Linked DNA regions of Homo sapiens: region 2 is linked to region 1. The links come from fine-mapping of genetic effects on gene expression. Tissue or cell type: whole blood. Region 1 holds a variant in brackets; the other region holds the start of a gene. All regions are shown on one strand. Distances are between the middles of the regions.

The links. PIP is the estimated chance that this variant, and not a neighbour inherited with it, causes the effect.
Region 2: it holds the start of PARP12, and the variant in region 1 is fine-mapped to the expression of PARP12 in whole blood (TOPMed, PIP above 0.99).

The regions. Positions count from the first base shown.
Region 1 is chr7:140,028,716-140,040,009 of GRCh38, forward strand. It overlaps PARP12 (poly(ADP-ribose) polymerase family member 12), which reads right to left. Exons shown (of 12, transcript NM_022750.4): 7 at 9,000-9,141; 8 at 5,520-5,616. Among named protein-coding and RNA genes, the nearest start is that of PARP12, 29 kb to the right of the region's middle. RefSeq lists a silencer at 7,797-7,846. The variant C/T (reference allele first, on the strand shown) is at 4,939.
Region 2 is chr7:140,058,101-140,069,394 of GRCh38, forward strand. It overlaps PARP12 (poly(ADP-ribose) polymerase family member 12), which reads right to left and starts at 4,851. Exons shown (of 12, transcript NM_022750.4): 1 at 4,422-4,851. The coding sequence starts at 4,747. RefSeq lists a silencer at 4,459-4,778 and an enhancer at 4,789-4,998.

The DNA.
Region 1 (11,294 bases):
GACATTTTATTCTTACACAAAGCAAATATACCATAGGTGGTCTCTGCTAGCCAATATCACCAGTCTTGAGTCTCAGCACATCATATTTCAAGAGCAGGTAGAAGGCAAGGAAGAATGTTAGCACGATATTCACAACATGAGAGCACTTTTATCTTTGCCTATGTAGCCAAACTCCAAACAGTCCTGAGAGATCTATTTCTCGCCTGTGTCCCAACTACCACACAAAAGGGATAAAAGGGATGGAGTACATGGTTAAAGGAGCACACACACAGCCATAAACCTTTATCCACAATTCTGAAATTCTAAGAGCTCTAAAGACATTTTTTTAAGGCCTCGATGAGGTATAATTGACATTTTAAAACTTTTTATACAGCTCAGGAAAAGCAGGAGAAAATATGAAATAAAACATTTTTTGAAAAACATAAAAGTGACATCAAAAGTCATTTGGCAGTAGAAATTTGACTGAAGTTAGTAAGAGGCCACTGTGATCTGTATCTATCCTTCTTAAACTGACTATGCATATTGTTTACTGCAGAAATATTAATGTGCTAAAATACAGAGTGTCACGTGATACAAGCATCACATTATCTTTCTAAAAATTAAATAAAAGCAGTTCAAAAGACATATGGATCAAGGGTTCAGGAACAAGGACTGTGAAACTATAATTACAAATCATTCCTATTAAGTTTCAGAATACACTGTTCTTTCTAAATAGATCTACCTTCTGTTTCTGCTGGCATGAAACATATACCTTCATCCTAAGCCTCAAAGAACTCCCACAAATAACTTTCCTGGGAAAATGGCACAGTTCAAAAATAACTAAGCAAGGTCCTACCAGCAAGAATCAGCCAAAAACAGACCCACAAAGACTTAAGATGCTGAAATTATCAGAGAGATTACAAAACAATTATTCTTCCTATGTTTAAAGGAAAAAAAAAGACAAACTTTAAAAACATATGCAAGGAACAGGAAACTATAAAAAGACCTGGAAGATCTAAAAAAGAACCAAATAGAACTTACAGAATTAAGTACAATCTTTAATAATAAAAGTGTAGTGGACAGGCTTAATAGCAGATTAGACCAGCTGGAGGAAGAATCAGTGAGCTGAAACATATGTGAAATGAAATTGTCCAGAATGTGGCCCACAGCAACAAGGAAATGGAAAATGCAGGAAAGAAGTTGAGACATGGAGAACAGTGAGAACTTGAATATGATCAGAACCTAAGTGAAGCTCTAGGAGAGGAGAGACAAGACAGTGGAGGCGATTTTCAAAGAGAACTGATGAGATGCACCTATCCGCAGCTTAAGAAGCCCAAAGAATCTCAACCATGATAAATAAAAGCACATACTTAGATACACTTTAGTGAGGATGCCTACCTCCAAGACAAACAGAAGCTCTTAAAAGTAGCCAAAGGAAAAAAGAGTGATTACTGTCAAAGAAGCACCTGTTAGACCAACAGGCAATTTCTCAAAAGCAACAGTGGAAGCCAGAATACAGTGGAGTGATCATCACAATGATCCAAGAGAAAATCCCTACAACCCAAAATTCTATACCCAGTGAAAATTTCCTTCAAGATTGATGGCAAAATAAATACATGTTGGCCAGGCGCAGTGGCCCACGCCTGTAATCCCAGCACTTTGGGAGGCCGAGGTGGGCAGATCACTTGAGATCAGGAGTTCAAGACCAGCCTGACCAACATAATGAAACCCCATCTCCACCAAAAATACAAAAATTAGCCGGGCATGGTGGCGCACGCCAGTAGTCCAAGCTACTCAGGAGGCTGAGACAGGAGAATCGCTTGAACTCAAGAGGCGGAGGTTGCAGTGAGCCAAGATCATGCCACTGCACTCTGGCCTGGGCGACAGTGCGACTCCATCTCAAAATACATACATACATACATGCATACATACATACGTACATACATATTCAGACAAACCAAAAACAGTTTTCCAACAAATCTTCATCGAAGGCAGCCTTGTCCAACCTGCAGCCCGCAGGCTGCATGTAACCCAGGACAGCTTTGAATGTGACCCAACACAAATCTGTAAACTTTCTTAAAACATTATGAGATTTTCTTGTGGTTTTTATTCTTTTAGTTCAGCTATCGTTAGTGTTAGTGTATTTTATGTGTGGACCAATTCTTTTTCCTCTAATGTGGCCTGGGAAAGCCAAAAGATTGGACACCCCTGATCTAAGGTAATCTGAAAGGACAAAGTGGTAAAAATGTGAGTAAATTTAATGAAACTTTCAGAGTATAAAATAATGGTGCCTCTTGAGGTTTAAAAAAAGTTGAGAGGAAGGCAAATGGAAGAAAAGATAGGAGGGCAAAGATATTGATTTACTTGTACTTAAGTGAAGAACATGTAGTTTCTACCATAGCCTTTAAAATATACATATACACAAAAGAAGGTAAGAAAAGAAAAAATAAGACCCAATCACATGAATGAAACATTTTCATAGAGGATGGGCAACATGGTGAGACCCTGTCTCCACAACAAATAAAAAAATTAGCTGGGCATGGTGGCGCATGCCTGTGGTCCCAACTACTTGGGATGCTGAGGTGGGAGGATTGCTTGAGCCCGGGAGGTGGAAGGTGCAATAAGCCGTGATCAGGTCACTGCATTCCATCCTGGGTGACAGAGTGAGACCCTGTCTCATAAATAAATAAATAAATAAATACATAAATAAATTTTACATGACACTCCTGTATTATGACTTCTGAATATGGACATTACATTTTATGACCTCATTAATTGTGTAAACAGAAAAGTTGTTTCTGAAAGTGATCTACCCTCAGATTCCCAATTGGCCATGCAGGCCCAGGCAGACTTGCTTACTGGAGTTAATGACAACCAGCTGCTGGCACATGGGTCAGAGAGAAGAACTGAACACTTCATCTGTGTGAACAGTGTGTGACACTCCGCTTACAGGAGACCCCAAATCACCCATATCTTAGTCTGAATCACTTTTAGTTTGGACATTTGGCATCTTCTTGTGGCCCCCTAAAAACTAAATTAGAATAAGAGAGATCTACTCTCAGAAAGCAGAGAGACTTTTCCAAACCTTGTCTAGGGTAGGCTTTGTATAGGAAAAGAATAAAAAATGACTTCCAGAAATAGGAGGGTCATAATCAACCAAAACTCTAAATCCAGAATCAGTAAGACACTGATACATTTAACTAAAATAATAAGAGATATATATTTATGGTAAAATACTTCACAGGCAAAGTCAAAAGGCAAACAACAAACTAAGAGAAAATATTTGCCATTTATATAACAAAACGAGGGCCAACCTCCCTAATAGATAAAAGGCTCTTGATATTTAAGAAAAATACCAGAAAGTTGATAGAAAAATGGATAAAAAGACCAACAGTCCACAGAAAAAGAAGCAAAAATGGCACTTACATGTTAGAAATAATATTCAACCTCACTCCTAAGAGAGAGCAAACTGAAGTCCACTGACCCATCTTTACCCCTGAGAAATGCAAAAGCCCAAGAGCCTGACAACTCACTCTGTGGCATCTCATGCGTCCTAGTGGGTGTGCATAATGATTCAAGCCCATGGAAAGGAATTTGGTTTACTTCCTACGACTCTGACCTAACAGTCGACCTCCAAAATTTGTTTTTTTTAATTAAAAAAAAAAAGAGACAGGGTCTCGCTATGTTGCCCAGGTTGGTCTCAAACTCCTGGGCTCAAGCGATCCTTCCATCTTGGCCTCCCAAAGTGCTGGGATTATAGGTGTGCACCACCGCACCTGGCCATACCTCCAAAATTTGAAACAGCACATACATCAAATGGTTCATCACGACATTATACTTTTTAATAGCAAAAGACTGAAAACAACACAAACATCCATGAAAAGGGGACATATTAAGTAAACTATGGTACATACATATTACAGAGAACCAGGAAAGAAGAAACGGATTGAGGAAGTTAATGAATTGAAACAAAGTGATTATCATGATCTATTTTTAAGTGAAAACAAAAAAGGGTATAGAACAGTATAGATAGCATGTTCCCTTTTGTGCAAGAAGAAAATACTTTTATATGTATGTATGCAAATGCTTATTTTTGCAAAGAGAAACATAAAAAAGAGAAACCGGAAACTAATGTTACCCACAGTGGGAACAGGGTAGAGATAACAGGGAGGAAGTTACAGTCTACAGAGGATACCATTTTATATAGGTTTGACTTTTAATCACGTGAAGGTTTTACACATAGTCAAAAACAATAATAATAATAATTATTATTTTTGAGACGGGTCTCACTCTGTCACCCAGGCTGGAGTGCAGTGGTGTGATCTTGGCTCACTACGGCCTTGACCTCCCTGGGCTCAGGTGTCTCTCCCACCTCAGTCTCCTGAGTAGCTGGGACTACAGGCGCACAGGCTGGTCTCGAACTCCTGGGCTCAAGCAATCTACCCGCCTCGGCCTCTTGAACTGTTGGGATTACAGGTGTGAGTCACTGCACCCAGCGCAAAAATAAATTTTAATTTAAAAAGGAAAAAGTAAGGCACATTCCCAGGAAATTACTTTGCTAGGTCTGACTCACAAGGCAGTTTCGTGGACTGATAATACCTTTCTCCTCTATCTTGTACCAAACTCATTTAAAAACGACCTTTGCATGCTTCACAAAACAAAAGAACCAAAAGAGACATTGTTGGTTCTCCATAAAATAGACACAAGCCAGACCTCTCAGGCGAACAGAAGGTGCAGCCAGCTACCAGTAACACTGCCTAAAGTCCCAGCACTGGCTCTGGCAAGCCCAAACTGTATGGGCACTGTGGTCCCTCTCCACCATGCAGGCCACCTTCCCCCAATATGTGGCTGTGTGGTTTGGAGAACACTGACCCCTTCCTCTCAGTTCCAATCCCATCCCACCTCCCCAAGCCTAAAATAACACCAGAGGTTGAGATAGGGTCTGATCAGTACAAAGCA[C/T]AAGAATTTCCCCTCATCTGCTATAGGAGGTTTCTCTCCTCCCTTCTAGGGGCTCACAGGCCACAGGCTAACCTGGTGGCTCCTGGCAGCCATCTTGGGACTGAAAGAAACTCACCCTGACGAAGCTCGCCCATTAGTGACTGCAATATCTGTTTTTAGAGTTTTGGTATTCCGTGATATTCAAATACTAAAATACATGAGTTTTTATTGGTGTAATTCCATCATTATTTCATTATTTCAACATTTAAAAAATTCAAGTCTATGACTCAATGATTCCACAGAAAAGACAAACGGATGGGTTGGCTTCAAGTCTAGACTCGCCTTCAGAGTCTGTCTTCTCCAGAGAATCATCGCAGATCACAACAGGCAGCCTTCTAATTATGCATCACGAAGCTTCTACCCACAGGGTAATTCCCACTCTGGTCCAACTAGTAGAAGACAAACGATAACAGAGTGTGGGAGCACTTCGTTGTACAAGCCAACGGTGCCCGGGTGCTGTCTGAGGCAGGTTTTCTGTCACCACTGCAGAGCACACCCCAGCTGATTACATCCTAAGTACCAAGCCCCCCACTGCAACCTACCAGGTTTGCATGGTCGTCACATCCTGGGGAGACACGTATTTGGGTCTGCGGCAAACCTTTTTAGTTGTGCCATAGACCAGGTTTTTCTGAACGAAGGCTGAAAAAAAACATAACCAGTGAAAAAATATACATATACATATACATACACACAGGATGGCAATGTTTTATAAACACAAATTAGATAGATTTGAAAGCTTATCCAAATGTGTAAAACCCAGAATCAGTCTGTTAAAAATAGGGCCATTTTACACATTTCAAATATTCATAAAGAAAATAGGTATCCTTAGGAGACTGGGTTTAATGAATAGAGGAATGATTAGTAATTGACATATCAATTACACATGAGTGCTTTTAAATTGTTCCTTCCAATCTTGTTTAAACCATTATTTTGCTTGGCAATTTTTCCCAGCTTGGATATAAAAAAGCCTCAGCCCAGCCTGAGATCAAACTACCATGTCTTGAGTTAGTGGGATTCAGAGTTAATGTAAGTTTTATGACTTTGTTTTAGTTAAACTATGGCAGTATTCATCAACCTTTCTAAACCAATAATATCTTTAATAAACAAATTTCTTGCTTCCCCACCCTCAAGAATCCCATACTCATCCTGAGGATTTGGGGTTGGGGGAACTGGCCCCTCAAGTTGAAAAATGACAAATACCTAGCAGTGTTTGTTCTGTCCTTGCCTGCCAGGAAAACCCTCTCAAGTCTTACATTTTTTTTAAGAGATGGGGTCTTTTGCTTTGTTGCTCAAGTGGACCTTGAACTCACCAGCTCAAGTAATCCTCCCACCTCAGCCTCCCAAGTAGCTGGGACTACAGGTTTGTGACACCATGCCCAACTAATTTTGTTTTCATTTACAAAACATTTTAATATTAAAAATTATAGGTGTCCAGAATTAGCCTTATTGCAGTTGAGCATAAACTGGATGGTTATCCAAGTGTGTGTCTCTTAGGTTGCAGCTGAGATGGTCACTATTCCTGGAGGTCCATCCACATTCTCATTCAGAGCCCATGATCCAGATGCAGCAACCATGACCCCTTCTGTTACCCACTACTCAGCCGCCCATCAAGACCATTCTCACTGGCATATTTAAATGGGTGTTACTGGCCTACTGGCCATCTGTGATGAATCTTAAATGGCTTTCACTGGTGAAATTAAAAGTGAGCTAAGATACGTGGACTGGCTAAATGTGTGTCAGACACATTCCCTACCCTTCTATGGACACAGTAAAGTGAGGTCTTTTCCCTAATTTACCCTTCCAGAGGATACCCTAGGCTACAGCCTGTCTTTGGGGAATTCTGCCCCGTCAGACACCACCTAACAGGATGCTAGAATTCTGCCTCTGGAATCCTGGCATTTGCCTTGAGTGAATCATTTATGACAAGAGTCCCTAAAAGGGCAGAACTGAATCATCCCTAAACCTTCAGAACAACTCATTTGGGCTCTTTTGTGTGTTTTAAATGTACTTGCTTCCTAATAAACAGCTAATAAATATGTGTGGCAGTTTGCTTTGAGACTTGCTTTATACTTAGAAGTGAAGTTGTGGGGGAAGAAGCCAATTCATCTCAAGCTTCTTTTATGGATACTGGTATCTACCAAAAGAAGGAGGAGGAAGAGGAGGAGGAGGGGGAAGAGGAAGAGGAGGAGGAAGAGGAAGAGGAGGAGGACGAGGAGGAGGACAAGGAGGAGGACAAGGAGGAGGAGGAGGAGGAGGAGGACGAGGAGGAGGAGGAGGACGAGGAGGAGGAGGAGGAGGAGGAGGAGGAGAAGGAGGAGAAGGAGGAGAAGGAGGAGAAGGAGGAGAAGGAGGAGAAGGAGGAGAAGGAGGAGAAGGAGGAGAAGGAGGAGAAGGAGAAGAATTGTGCCCACTCAAATGGGCTTCGGTCAGTCTGCAGGAATCATAAACTGCACGTGTGTGCTCTTCCCCATCCCTATTATGAGGTTCTGTTATGTCCCCAGGGTGTGGCCTAGGTTGGGAATGATCAAGGTAGTATCTGACATTTCTATCTGTTTTGATATTTTCCAGATATTTAAAAGAAATATTCCAGATTGCTGTCAGCAGCAGTCAGATGTATGCTTGCCACACAGTCCTGACCTTCAGGGCAGTCCTGATTTGATTAACGTCTATGCTCTCACTGGTCCCCTCTCATGCACTGGTGTGTGTCAGGCCGTGGAAAGCAAACCAGACCACACGTGGCTGGCGCTCTCCAGCAGAGGCAGTTCGCACTCTAGAGGAGAAAAACTTCACCGTAAAGGGCATGTCAAGGGGGTAGTGATCTACCCTAAGCAAAACCACAAGTGCCACGAAACCACAAGCAAAACCAAGGCCAGAAACAGACAGCCAAAGTGGTTTTAGGATAATTCACCAGACACTTCACTATACTCCACATAGAATAAACGTCTGCAAAAATAAAGAAAACCATAAACTGTGTTTAAAGGAAGGCCCACTTACTCCCTTATAAAATGCTGAACATTCAGAAGGACTCAGAGTTTAAAATGTGAAATACAGGCAAAACGGAACTGAATAAAGCTGGACCGATACACTCATGAGGAAATGGCTTAAGAGAAACTACACAAAATTAAAACTTAAAAAAAAAAAAATTCTCACACATCAGCCACTTGGAGGAACTGGCCAAAGGGTGGCCTATTTCTCTCTGTAAGGCAACCAGGATGAAACATTTCAGCCCCAGCCTCAGGACACCATGAGTGCACGAAAATCTGCTTCTCAGGGACTTTCAATTACTCTGTGTCCTACCATCCGTTAAACCCATCAACTCCAAAGTCGCCTACAGAAAAGATGGCAGCAGGCCAGGCGCGGTGGCTCATGCCTGAAATCCCAGCAAACTGGGAGGCCAAGGTGGGTAGAACGCTTGAGGACAGGAATTCAAGACCAGTCTGGCCAACATGATGAAACCCCGTCTCTATGAAAAATACAAAAAATTAGCCAGGTGTGACGGCTCATGACTGTAATTCCAGCTACTTGGGAGGCTGAAGCACGAGAATCACTTGAACCCGGGAGGCGGAGGTTGCAGTGAGCCAAGATCACGCCATTGCACTCCAGCCTGGGTGACAGAGCGAGACTCCGTCTCAAAAAAAAGATGACAGCAGCACTGCTGCAGCAGGGAGTGAAAGGCAGACACTGCACGACGGAGCTGCTCGGACACCTGTCAGGGACTCAGGTTAGTCCTCGGATACAGCAGGACAACCATGCTACATGCATGCTGACCCTGCTTGTCCTCCACACTTGGGGCTCCTGCCCCTCCTGGGGTCCATTCTCCTCACATCCTTGATGCAGTTCTTCCTCCACTGCACAGGGCCAGTGTCATCTGTCTCCAGGTCTACCTTGGACCTGGTACCTTGCTTTTCTTTCCTGTACCCACCCAGGCCCTCAGTATGTGCACACGGCTCCTCCAGGGTTAAGGTGTAGGGACAGAGCCAACACAGGCAGGCTCTGCTGGGCGAGGGCAGGGCACAGGATACCTTTGAAATCTAACTCGTAGTTGTGCTTTCCGGCCTGGAACTTCAAGGTGGCTGCCTGGCCGTCAGACCCCGGTGTACAGTAGGCCAGGTAGGCCTTCTCCACGTCGCTACTGCTGACAGTGGTCACAGGGTGCACCGTGCCCTGCGATGGAAAGCCAGACACTTTATGAAGGCAAGAAACTGCGTGATGAGGAAAAACGCTGGTGGCACCCACGCCACATTTCAGAGGTGCTCCTGGTGGACAGTCCTGTGGTGGGGAAGATGGAGGCCAGGGAGCATGGTATGGCAGGAGAGAGAGGCACAGAATGGAGGCAACATGACTGTCTCCTGAAGCTGCCCTAGCAAACACAATGCAGTAAATATGGGTCCTGCTGAGCAGGAAGACAGGGATGGGAGCAACGGAGAGGAGGGCACTCAAGTCACCTAGGACAGAGGACACGGCAGCCATTCAAATGCCGGCAGAACAGCAACAGCGACTTCTGGAGTGCTGCTTGACTGGGCAGCCCAAGCCAGGCTGGTCTTACCCGTCTATTCACGTTGCAACCATCCTTTAATCAGAGCTCGGTCCTCTTCCTTGCGGTTTTCTTTTTCTGGTCCCTAGGAGCATTCATCTATTTTTTAAATTATCCATTTCAATCCCTATCCTTCCACAATTACCTACAGGAAATCTCGTAGCTTCAGCTGGAGTGAGTTTGAATTCTGGCTCCCAAACCTGCTGGCTCTATAACTTTGGCAAGTTATCTTAACCTCCCTGAGCCTCCGTTATCTCAAGCTTATAATATGAATAATAGTACTTAGGCCATATTCATCCCTTTATACAACAGGACTATATTGTCCTCACAGGGCTGGAGAAATCATTTAAATAAGGCATGTGGAGCACTTAGTACAGTGCCCAGAACAAAACATACTCAATAAATGTTACTATTATCATCACCGTTCTTATTAAATTTGAGATTACACTGACAACTAAAATTAAAGTTATTCAACCTATAACCAACTAACTCCCTCTGTCCCTGTCAATTTTCCTGCTCCCCCTACTGCTACCATCCTAGTTCTCCTGGGTCACAAGCTTTAGGTGTTACTAACAGAACAAAAGTGAGACAAGACAAGAGTCACCCATGCCTCTGCGCAACTGAGTCCAGCAATGGAGAAGGGGAAAAAAAAGTACCCAGATATTTCAAAGCCTCAAGCACAAGGTCCCACACAGGTCTCACGGGTGCTCTAGACGCTGAGATGGGTAACTAAGAATGACCAAGGAAGGGTGAGACCCAGCAAAGGTTTCTTGGAAGAAAAAGATGCCTGAGCCAAGGCCCAAGCCCGAGGGATGACATGAGTTGGCCCCATGAGGACCATAAGGGGCGGGTGTAAGAGGTATAATGGTTTGTAAAGCAGCCTCCTAGTTTACGGTCTCATAGCGGCGCCTAAGTTTCTCTCTCTGAAGTCTGTCTTCCTTCAAAACCAAGCCATTAGACTAGAGTCCGGGAGGAAGAGGATGTGGCATAAAAATCCCTTTCTGACAACAAGAGGAAAGGAAAAGAAAACAATCCCTCCCCTTTGGGCCTGAGGAAATGAAGCTCTGAGTCAGGGAAACAGAGAGGAGAAGCAGCAGTCAGATGCAGGCGTCCTGCCCCGACCCAGGCCTCCAGTCAAAATCCCTGCAGATGGATGGTCACAGAGGGAGGGAAGATGCAGGTGGATGAGCAGAAAGCAAAAAGCAAAGAGTTTTTTTGCCCTCAGTGGGAGGTTTGGAAGGAGAAACCAACAATGGCAGCCATATTATGTGTTAAGCTGAGAAAGGTCTCGGTTTAGCACCTGGAGGCACCAAGTGAGATGTGGAAGGAATGACAGATTCCCACATGTCCTGTGGCAGGACCAGCAGGTGTCTGATTTTGACATGAAATGTTGGAGTACTTCTTGAGCTCAGACAGAAAAAACTTAGCTTTTCTGGGAATCAAGAGAAAACTGTTTTGAAGTGGCAATTAACAGAAAACTAAAAAAGAAACCTAAATGTGGGGTTATACCAGAAACGTGTAGGAAAGGGAGGACAAGACAAACCAGATCATCCTAGGCTGTCCAGCCTGAAGCCACCAAGCCTACATGTGTTTCTACGCCCCCACTAGCACGTGGCATATCAATAACATCCACACGCGGTTCATCCCCAGACATTCTCAAACTGCTCGCCATGAGTTTCTGCACTGCCACAGAGGAAGAGGAGCACAGGAAAGAAAGGGGCACGCTCCAGGTGTTGGCTGACTGGAGGAGACCGGCCCCAACAACCAGAGCTGTGATGAGACA
Region 2 (11,294 bases), 29 kb after region 1:
CTAACTCCCACGACCTCAGGATATGGCTCTATTTGGAAAGAAGGTCTCTAAAGAGGTAATTAAGTTAAAAAGAGGTCCATAGGGTGGGCCCCAAACCCACAAGACTACTGTCCTTATAAGAAGAGATTTGGCTAAGCACGGTGGCTCATGCCCGTAATCCCAGCACTTTGGGAGGCCGAGGCAGGAGGATCACGAGGTCAGGAGATTGAGACCATCCTGGCTAACACAGTGAAACCCCGTCTCTACTAAAAATATAAAAAATTAGCGGGGCGTGGTGGTGAGCGCATGTAGTCCCAGCTACTCTGGAGGCTGAGGCAGAAGAATGGCATGAACCCGAGAGGCGGAGCTTGCAGTGAGCCACTGCACTCCAGCCTGGGCAACAGAGTGAGACTCAGTCTCAAAAAAAAAAAAAAGAAGAGATTGGGGCACAGACACACACAGAGGGAAGACCATGCGAGGACATGGTGAGAAGGTGGCCATCTACAAGCCAAGGAGAGGGGCCTCAGAAGAAATCAACCCTGCCACCTTGATCTCAGACTTCTAGCCTCCAGAACTGTGACAAAATCGATTTCTGTCGTTTAAGCCTCCTAGTCTATGGTACTTTGTTATGGCAGCGCTGGCAAACTGAAAGCTGATAAAATCAGTCTTCATGACAATTTTTCAGAAACACTTCCTGACAGTATTTACAAGCACCAGAGAAAAACCAGCATGTAGGCTGGGTATGGTGGCTCACGCCTATAATCCCAGGACTCTAGGAGGCCAGGGTGGATGGATCACTTGAGGTCGGGAGTTCGAGACTAGCCTGGCCAACATGAAGAAAACCTGTATCTACTAAAAATACAAAATTAGCCGGGCGAGGTGGTGCATGCCTGTAATCCCAGCTACTCAGGAGGCTGAGGCAGGACAATCGCTTGAACCCAGGAGGCGGAGGCCGTGGTGAGCCAAGATTGCGCCATTGCACTCCAGCCTGGGCAACAGGAGCGAGACTCTGTCTCAAAAAAAAAAAAAAGAAAGAAAAAAAGAAAAACCAGCATGTCTACATGACAACAACAAAAAATCCAATGTGTATTTACCAAGGAGGAGATGGGGCCTTGCAAGGTCTAAGGCCCAGGACAGCGCCTCTGAACAAGCATTTGATGAGAATGACAAAGAGGAGTTGCTGCACAGCAGTCAGTCGGTAAGCAGTTAGCCACAGGCTGAATCAATGAGCATGGCATCTTATCATTATAGGTTACATATGTGCATGCGTGCAGGCGTGTATACACACACACACACACACACACACAGAGCCCTGAACCTAGCTTTTTTTTTTTTGCTCTCTTCCTCCATTCTTTCCATCCACAAGCGTCTGATAAGCACCAGGGTGAGCCAGACATTGGCACCATGCCCTGAGAACCCAAAGATAAACCTTTAAATGACTGCCTGAGTCACCAGGACCCAGAAGAGTCAGGCCAACAGCATTTGTTTGACTCTGGCACTGCCATGCCTCCTATGCCACATCTCAGGAGAATGCCAAACCCTGATCCACCCCAAACCTGCACCTTTTACAGAATCCCCCAGCTCAGTAAAAGGCAACTTCCCTCTCCCACTGCACAGACCAAAAACCCTGAAGCCATCCTTGCCTGCTCTCTTTCCCTCATCTAGCGGAGGTGACAGACATAGAGGAGACTCTGATACGGAGTGGAAAGTGCAACGTCAGCTGTTGTCAGAATCTGTCAGCGCAGAGCGGAAGGGCACCTGAGCCAGTCAGGGCTGGGAGAGAACTGGGGAAGAAATCAGGGGAGCATGCTGGATGGCATAAAGCCTGAGTGGAATACTTAAAGGGTGAGGAGGAGACAGCAAGAGAAAGGAAGAACATTCCAGAAGAGGGGCAAATAATTTGGTGCTGCCAGAGCCAAATATATCTAATAAGTGTAACGATGACTGATGGTAACAATGATAATGACTACTAAAATTTATTGAGCAACTGCCAAATATCGGGGATTGCCAAAATGTTTTATGAGTTAATCATTCAGTCCTCAACCAGCCTGTGAGGGTAGTAATATCATTAACTCCACTTTGCAGATGAGGGAACTGAGACCTGGAGGTAAAGTCACTTGCCCGAAGCCATCAGCTAGCAAGGAGCAGAGCCCAGGTTGAAACAAGGTGGGCTGGATCTTGGGACTGTGCCCTAGACCACCAGGCTCAATGCCTCCTGAGTAGAGGACTAAGAGTCAGGCACCCAGGACTCCGTACCAGCTCTGCAGCAGGACTGATGAGCTATTTCTAAAAGAACTGACCCTGCGGTTCAGGAAGACAAGCAGAGTCACAGGGGAAGCAGAAAAGTGCAGCCAACCACACCCACTCTCCCTAAAGTGAGTCAGAAATGGAAGGTTCAAGAAACTCACCTGTGTAAACCACAAGGAAAAGAGAAAACTGAAGAAAGAAGAAAACTCAAGGTCATCTGAGCCAGTAAATATCACACTACAGATTTCCGAGACAAGTCAGACCTGACCCCACATTTTGGGAACTAGCTTAAGAACAGGGCTGCCATCTTTATTTTACCAAATATGAACATGAAACAGATCTACCAGTTACCCCCATGAGTGGCTCTATCCAGCCACCATTTGCTGTGTGCCTTCCTCCTCGTGGGCTGTTGTTCCCTGCTCTCCCCTGGACTGCCTCATCCCTGAAGGCTGATTTCCCCAGAGTTCCACCCTCAGCCTCTTTTCAGGCCTCAGACGCTACCTCAGATCTGATCCACTCCTGGGGCTGCAACTACAACATACACCGCCCAATATCTCCCAAACCAGCCCAGCGCATTGGGGCCCTGGCCTTCCTCCCAAGCTTCTGACCTGAACAGCTGCCTCCTGGGCATGCTTCCAAACTAAAACCCTCTCTTGCTCTCTCAGTGAACAACACCCAGGCCACCGCAGGAACAGAGACTGAAGAGTCGTCACCTCTCACATATCCTCTCATCACACCGTCACCAGCTATCCCAAATTTCTCACACACATAGCCCTTGGAAAGCTCTAATCTAGATACTTCCAGACAGCTGCTTCCTAGAGGCATTTCCCAGTCACCCTGCATCTAGACAGGGTCACGAGACAGCTTCTGGTCAATGGGATGTGGGTGAAAGGAAATCCACCACTTCTAGACCTGGCCCACAAAAACCTCCCATGCATCCCTCTTTTCGATCAGCCCCCTCGAACTTGATAACCTAGGCTGGCCTCAAGAGCCATGTGCTGAGGGGCACAGAGCGGAGGTCAGTCAGCCTGCATCCCTGAATGACTGTATGGATCAAGGCCCCCACCCCATGCTCACTACTGGGCCTGACATGAGCAAGAAATATCTACTCTATTAAGACAAACATACACACACACACACAAAACAGGGAGCAAGCAAGAAAGGAGGGAGCAGGGGAGGAAGGAATTCTCCTTGATGACTAGCTTCCCAGTGGTTCCCCCACAACATCCTCCCTTAAATTGGCACCCACACCACTACCTTAGACTTCCTAAAACGCAAACCTGATGGTTGCTCTCTCCTGCCATTTTACCCGCCCCATCACCTCCAGGGTGAGGCCCAAATTCTTTAGCATAAACCTCAGCAATCCCTTCCACACATCCCACTGGCCACATGCTATGCACAGAACATGGACGCTAAGTGCTGGGGAGACAGCTGGAGCCTCTGCCCTCAGGGAGTTTCTATTCTACTGGCAGCTGGGTGCCATGAGGAAAATAAACAGTTCCCTGTGACCAAGAGTAAGGGGAGGAAAAATCCTCAAATGGGATGTGATCTTTAGGTTGAGGCCTGAAGGATTAACAAATAGGGCCAACCAAGAGCAAGAAGGGCATTCCAGGCAGAGCAAAGACTCCCAGAAATGCCCAGGCTCCCAGAAATGCCCGGGGGGGGGGGGGTGTTCCAGTCACAGAAGGGTCCTGGGTGGGCAGGGACCAGTGCCCCAGGACCTTGTGGGCGATGGCAGGGAGTCTGCATTTTCCAGTTTGTAAGCAGATTAATAGGGTTGAACTGGGTTTAAAGATCTCTACCAGCTGCTGGGCAGAGAAAACCTTCATTGTCTGGCCTCAAAGCTGGCAAGGGGCGACCCGCGGCGTCGTGGAGTTCCCCTAAGCCGCCGCCTCCCTCCCTCCCCACCCCACACGGCCACACCCGGGTGTTCCACCCGGCACTACCATGCTCTATGTAAATCACTCTCTCCCCCCAGGCGTCTAGAGGACCCCACTCGACCCTGAGTCCCTCGCACTGTGCCAGGTACTCCGCAGGTGCTCATTAAACGCTCGCTTTAGTGAATGACGGTGCGAGGTCAGGGCAGAGCCACCGAATTGTCTGCTCAAACTTCAAGTAGGACCCCCAAGCGGGCTGGAAGTGCGTGAGGGCGCGCAGGACCTCCGCCCGCCGTCGCTCCCGGCGCGGCGCCTTACCCGGCTCTCAGGAACTTGCAGGCGCCGTAGACCATGAACCTGCAGAGGTGGAGCTGCGCGCAGAGCCCCACGCAGCCCGGCTTGGAGCCCTGGTGCGCGCGACACAGGCGCAGCGGCGAGGCGGCCAGCACCACGCGCTCCGGGGCCGCGGCTGCGCCGCCCGCCCGCACCGCCACCACGAAGCGCCCACGCTGCCGCAGCAGCCGCTCCAGCGCGTCGGCGCTCAAGCCCATCCGCAAGCGGCGCCGCAGCTCGGGCAACTCCAGGGCGCCCCCGGCCGCGCACAGCACCTGGGTGACCTCACCGACGACGCCGGCCTGGGCCATGGCCGCTGGGCCTGCTCCCGTCGGACCGCGGGTGGCGCGACGCGGACGGCGGCGGACGCTGGCTGGCGGGCGGCTCTCGCAGGGTGGAGACGCCGGCGGGAAACGAAACCGAAAGCGGCCCCGGGCCGGCGAAAAACAGAACCTGTGCGCCCTCGCCACGCCCCCGGTCCGCAGCTGAGCGGCTGCGCCTTCCGCCTCAGGGCCCCCAGCTGTGAGGCCGCCGCCCGACGGAAGCTCGGGAGCTCTTGAGCTCGGGCGTTCGGCCCGGAGCGCGGGCTGTGGCTGTGGCGGCTCGCGGGGGTCAGTACCTAGTCCCTGAAAATGGCTTCCCTGGATGTTTGAGGGACCAGGAGCCCCTAATGCCGCGATGCTCAGCGCGCCTTCAGTCAGAGGGAGCCTCGAGGGCGGCGGCAGCGCTGGCGGAGCCGGCTGGACGCCGCCGGTTAAAGCCGCTCAGCGTCGCCCAGGCCAAGCCCGGGCTTCGTAGACGGCTCACAGAAACAGGGACAACTGACGGGAGCTCTCACCCCTCGAACAAGTGACAAAAGCGATCACTCCGCATAGAAGACGCACTTAATTAAAGGTTCCTTTCGCCTCGGTGCATCAATGAGTTCCTTCATTTAAACATAAAAGGGTATGTCCTTTAAAAGAGCAAATCCGTGAGCCGAGATTGCGCGACTGCACTCCAGCCTGGGCGACAGAGCGAGACTCCGTCTCAAAAAATAAAATAAAATAAAATAAAATCCGTTACTCCCAGCCCCTGCTAAGTAACGATTGAACAAATATTTTAGAAGACCCTTCAGAGCAAAGGACCCTCTCACACGCTGAGAGCAATGCGAGTTGTTAGAGCCCTTTGAGGAGGTAATCCAGGAATAGCTATTAAAATTGAAAACGCGTGTGACCTTTGACCCAGCAATCTTTCCTCTCGGAATCTTCCAGAAGTAAAAGGAACAGTAAATAAGTTATGTGTGAAAGTGTTACTGGGGGAACCCTACCTGGGAGGTAGGGTTACGTGGGAACAGTGTGGTTGATCTTTAAAGACTATTACGAAGGCTGTTTAACAAGCATGCGTTAGAGCTCCGTGTGCGGATGTAGAGGGGCAGACAGCCATGATGTGGTGGTAAACGAGAAAAGATGGCTGTACAGAAATGTCTAAATAATCAAGTTGAATGATCAAGAATTAATTTTTTTAAATGTCTGAATAACAAAAAGAGAAGCCTGTGTGTGTGTGTGTGGCAGGATATTTTTGAATAAGCACGGAGAAAGATGAAGAAACACACAAGGGTAGTTGAGAGGAGGCAGTAGGAGGTATTAGGAAAATGGAAAAGGGAAGATGAGAGGCAGAAGGATTGTGGGGGGAGAGTACTTACGGTATACGGTATAACATTCACTAAAAATGAATATAAAAATCTTAACTATAGGCCAGGCACAGTGGCTCACGCCTGTAATCCCAGCACTTTGGGAGGTCAAGGCGGGCGGATCACTTGAGGTCAGTAGTTTGAGACCAGCCTGGCCAACGTGGTGAAACCCCGTCTCTGCTAAAAACGTAAAAATTAGCCGGGCGTGGTAACGGGCGCCAGTAATCCCAGCTACTCGGGAGACAGGCAGGAGAATCGCTTGAATCCGGGAGGCAGAGATTGCAGTGAGCGGAGATCATGACACTGCACTCCAGCCTGGGCGACAGAGTGAGACTCCATCTTTAAAAAAAAAAAAAAAATTACCTGTACTATTACTACAAAAATGTAAATAATAAGTGTATGGATAAAGACTAGATAGTAACATGGACAAATGAAAATGAATTTATTTAATTAGGAAATTGAATGAAGGGTTTTCTCTTGGATTTTAATTGTGATTTTAATGTTTTCATTGTATAAAATGTTAATTTTGTTTTTGTTATTGTTTTAGAGACAAGGTCTTGGTCTGTCACCCAGGCTGTAGTATAATGGTACAGTCATAGCTCACTACAACCTGGAACTTCTGGGCTCAAGCGAACCTTCCACCTTAGCCTCCCAAGTAGCTGGGCCTAGAGGCACGTGCCACCATGCCCAGATAATTTTTATATTTTTTTGTAGAGACACTGTCTCATTTGTTGCCCAGGCTGATCTTGAACTCCTGGCCTCAAGCAGTCCTCCCACCTCAGATTCCTAAAGTGCTGGGATTACAGTGAGCCACCACGCCTAGCCTAAAATGTTAATTTTTAATTTAAAATGTTAGGCAGAGTGCAGTGGCTCACGCATGTAATCCCAGCATTTTGGGAGGCCGAGGTGGGTGGATCACTTGAGGTCAGGAGTTCAAGACCAGCCTGGCCAACTTGGTGAAACCCCATCTCTCCTAAAAATACAAAAATTAGCCAGGTGTGATGGTGTGTGCCTGTAATCCCAGCTACCTGGGAGGCTGAGGCAGGAAAATCGTTTGAACCAGGGAGGCGGAGGTTGCAGTGAGTCAAGATCGCACCGTTGCACTCCAGCCTGGGCAACAGAGCAAGACTCCGTCTCAAAAAAAAAGTTAATTTTAGTTGTGGTTTCCATATTTTTTTGCAATAAAATAACATTTTTTAAAAAAGAAAGGAAGAGTGATGTCAGTGAAAATGGTGGATTAAGTATCCCAGCAAGTTTGCCCTTCCATAAAGGAAGCAAGGAAAGAACTGACAAAAATTGTCAGAATCAACTTTCTTAGAGCCCTAGAAATTAGTCACAGGTTTGCAGCAACCCATCTGGCATTTAGTCAGGAAAAACAGCAAACTCTCAGTAAGAACAGCAATATTTATAGTATTTTAATTTACCCTAGTCCTATCGCACCCCCATCTCTAGTTCCATGGCAGCCTTGAAAACTTACAGCCCACGTTCCTAGTACCTGTACCAGAGGGAGGAGACAGGGCTGGAGCTACTTCAAAGTCTCATTCCCAAAGAAGAGTCATTATTTAACCTATCTAGTGGGTCCCTGGAAAAAAATCCTGAAAAGGGTTGTCTTTATTCAACCTCTTTGGAACTAGCTCAGTCCTAAAGGTTTTTCCACCTGAAGAGGGAGTGATTTGTCAAATATTTTAACATTGTAACTGGCTGAGGCAATAGGTAACGGTAGGGGCAAACAATAGACTAACAAAGAAATGTAAAAGGAAACGTTGAAGGAAGAGATGTCCATAGGGGCTTTGAAAAGCTCCAGTATATTTTCAGGAATTTAGAAGGCCATGTGCATGTGTAGGGCTGTGCACATGCTCTGTTAACACCTGAGAAGATCCTAACCTCTCACTACTAGCTGACACTGAGGCTCTGTGCTAGCAGGAAATAAAAGCTATGCAGAGTTGCAAACTGCCTAATGAAAATTGAAGACATACCCCAAAGTGCATACAGAGCCCCTTGGCAAAGACTAGGAGACATATTGGTTCCAGGTGTTTAAGGAAATCTCCATCTAATCATTAGTTGACCAAGTAGAGACTTCAATAGTCACACACAATGAAGATACACACTTTAAAAAATTAGTTCAAAAAAGTTACTAAACAGCAACTATTAGGTTGGTGCAAACCGCAATTATTTTTGCACCAACCTAATACTAAAATAAGCACAATCAAACCCTGAGGAGAGAGGAGTATCTGACTTTGAGAGTTGGCACATTGTTTGAAATGTCCAATTTTCAACTAAAAATTATGTGACTTGCAAAGAAACAAGAAAGTAAGACCCATACAAAGGAAATAAGAGCAATCAATAAAAACTGTTCCTAAGAAAACCCAGATGCTGAACTTTGTAGACAAAGAGTGTAAATCAGCTATTTTTGATATGTTCACAGAGCTAAAGGAAACCATCTCTAAAAATGTAAAAGAAAGGATGAGAATGATGCCTTGCCAAACAGAATATTAATAAAGACACAGAAATTATAATAAGGAACCAATAAAGGTTCTGGAGCCAAAAAGTACAATAACTGAAATGTTAAATTCACTAGAAGGGTTCAGCAGCAGATTTGAGCATGCGAAAGAAAAAAAAAATCAGCAAACTTGAAGATAGATCAATTGATGATTATCTGGTCTGTGGAACAGAAACGAAAAAGAAAAATGAAAAGAGCCTCAGAGACCTGTGGGACACCATCAGATATACCAATAACACAAAATGGAAGTCTTAGAAGGAGAAGAGAGAGAGAGAAAGGAAAGCGAGAATATATGAAGAAATTTTGGCTAAAATTTCTCAGATTTGATGAAAAACATTAATCTACACATCCAAGAAGCTTAATGAATTCCAAGTAGGAAAAACTCAAATAGATCTACACCTAGACACATCATAATCAAACTTTTGAAAACAAAGAGAATCTTGAAAGCAGCAAGAAAGTAGCAACTCATCATGCACAAGGAATCAACAATAAAATAAAAACAGTTAACTTCTCATCAAAAACCATGCATGCAGAGGGTAGTGTGATGATGTATTCAAAATGTGAAAAGAATCAACCAAGAATTTTATATCCAGCAAAACTATCTTTCAGAAATGAAGGAGAAATTAAGATATTCCCAGATAAACTAAAGCTGAGCCCGTTAGTTGCTAGCACTGGGAGAAACACTAAAGAGAGTCGTTTGGGCTGAAAGTGAAAGACACTAAACAGCAACTGGAATTCTCATGAAGAAAGAAAAGCACCAGTAAAGGTAACTACACAGGTAAATGAAAAAGACAGTATAAACGTATTTTTTGTTTGTAACCCCCATCATCTGATTTAAGACAACTACATAATGCAGTAATTACAAATATAAGTTGATGGACAATGTTTTGAAGATGTAATTTGTGACAATAACAGCAGAAGGAAATGGGGAAGGAAAGTGAAGCCATAGAGAAGCAGTTTTTATATTCTGTGGAAATTAAATTGGTATTAATCCAAACTGGATTTTTATAAATTAAGATGTTGCTGGTAATTCCTAGTGCAACCAATAACCAATAAAATACATGAGGCCGGACACAGTGGCTCACGCCTGTAATCCCTGCATTTTGGGAGGCCGAGGCGGGTGGATCACCTGAGGTCAGGAGTTCGAGACCAGCCTGGCCAACATGGTGAAACCCCATCTCTACTAAAAATACAAAAAATTAGCCAGGTGTGGTGGCAGGCACCTGTAATCCCAGCTACTCAGGAGGCTGAGGCAGGAGAATCGCTTGAACCCAGGAGGTGGAGGTTATAGTGAGCCAAGATCGTATCACTGCACTCCAGCCTGGGCAACAGAGTGAGACTCCATCTCAATAAAAAAAAAGAAAGAAAGAAAAAAAAAGAAATGATAAGATAATTTAAGTGGCACACTGGCAAATATCTATTTAATACAAAAGAAGGCAGTACTAGAGGAGTTGAAAAACAAAAAAAAAGACAAAAGACGTAGAAAAAATAGAAAAATGGCAGACAAATCCTACCTTATTAGTAATTACATTAAATGTAAATGGATTAAGCTTTCCAATTAAAAAATAGAGATGGGCATAATGGACCAAAACAAACAACAAAAATAGAAAACATGACCTAACTGTATGCTGCATTCAAAAGATACATTTTGGATTCAAAGACAAACAGATTGAAAGTAAAAGGATGGAAAAAATATACCATACAAATGGTAACCAAAAGAGGGCCGGAGTGGTTATACTAATGTCAGACAAAATAGACATAAGATAAAAATTCTTACTAGAGATAAAGAAGGACATTTTATAATGATCAAAGAATCTACCAAAAATATATAATAAATATAAATTAAATGCACTTAACAACAGAGTCCCAAAACACATGAAGCAAAAACTGACAGAACTGAAGGAAGAAATAGACAATTCAACAATAATAGTTGGAGGCTTTAATATCTACTTTCAATAATGAATAAAAAACCAGACAAAATATCAGCAAGGATATAGAAGGGCAATACTATAATCCAAGTAGACCTGAAAGACATCTATAGAACTCTTCACCCAACAAGAGCAGAACACATATTCTTCTCAAGTGTACATGGAAAATACTCCAGGATATACCAGATGCTAGGCTATAAAACAAGTCTCAAGAATCGTAAAATAAATTATATGAAGTATGTTCTCTTGCCATAATGGAATAAAAGTAGAAGTCAATAACAGAAATTTGAAAAATTCACAAATATGTAAAATTAGAAAATATACTTCTAAATAATAAGTCAAATAAGAAATCACAAGAGAAATTAGAAAATATTTTTGAGATAGATGAAAATGAAAACAAATTTATGAGATGTAGTGAAAGCATTGTTTCAAGGAAAATATGTCTCTGTGAATGCCTACATGAAAAAGGATCTCAAATCAATATCCTAACATTCCATCTTAGAAACTAGAAAAATAAGAGCAAACTAAGCCCAAAAGGAAGGAAATAATAAAGATTAGAGTAGAAACACAATAGAGAATTTAAAAAGAATACAAAGAATAAAACCAAAAGTTGGTTCTTTGATAAGATAGAAAATTTATAATTCTTTGCCTACAGTGACCAAAAAAAGAAAAAAGAAGAAGACTAAAATTACTAACATCAGGAATAAAAGAGGAGTCATTACTACTGACTTTACAGAAATAGAAAGGATTATCAAGTGTAA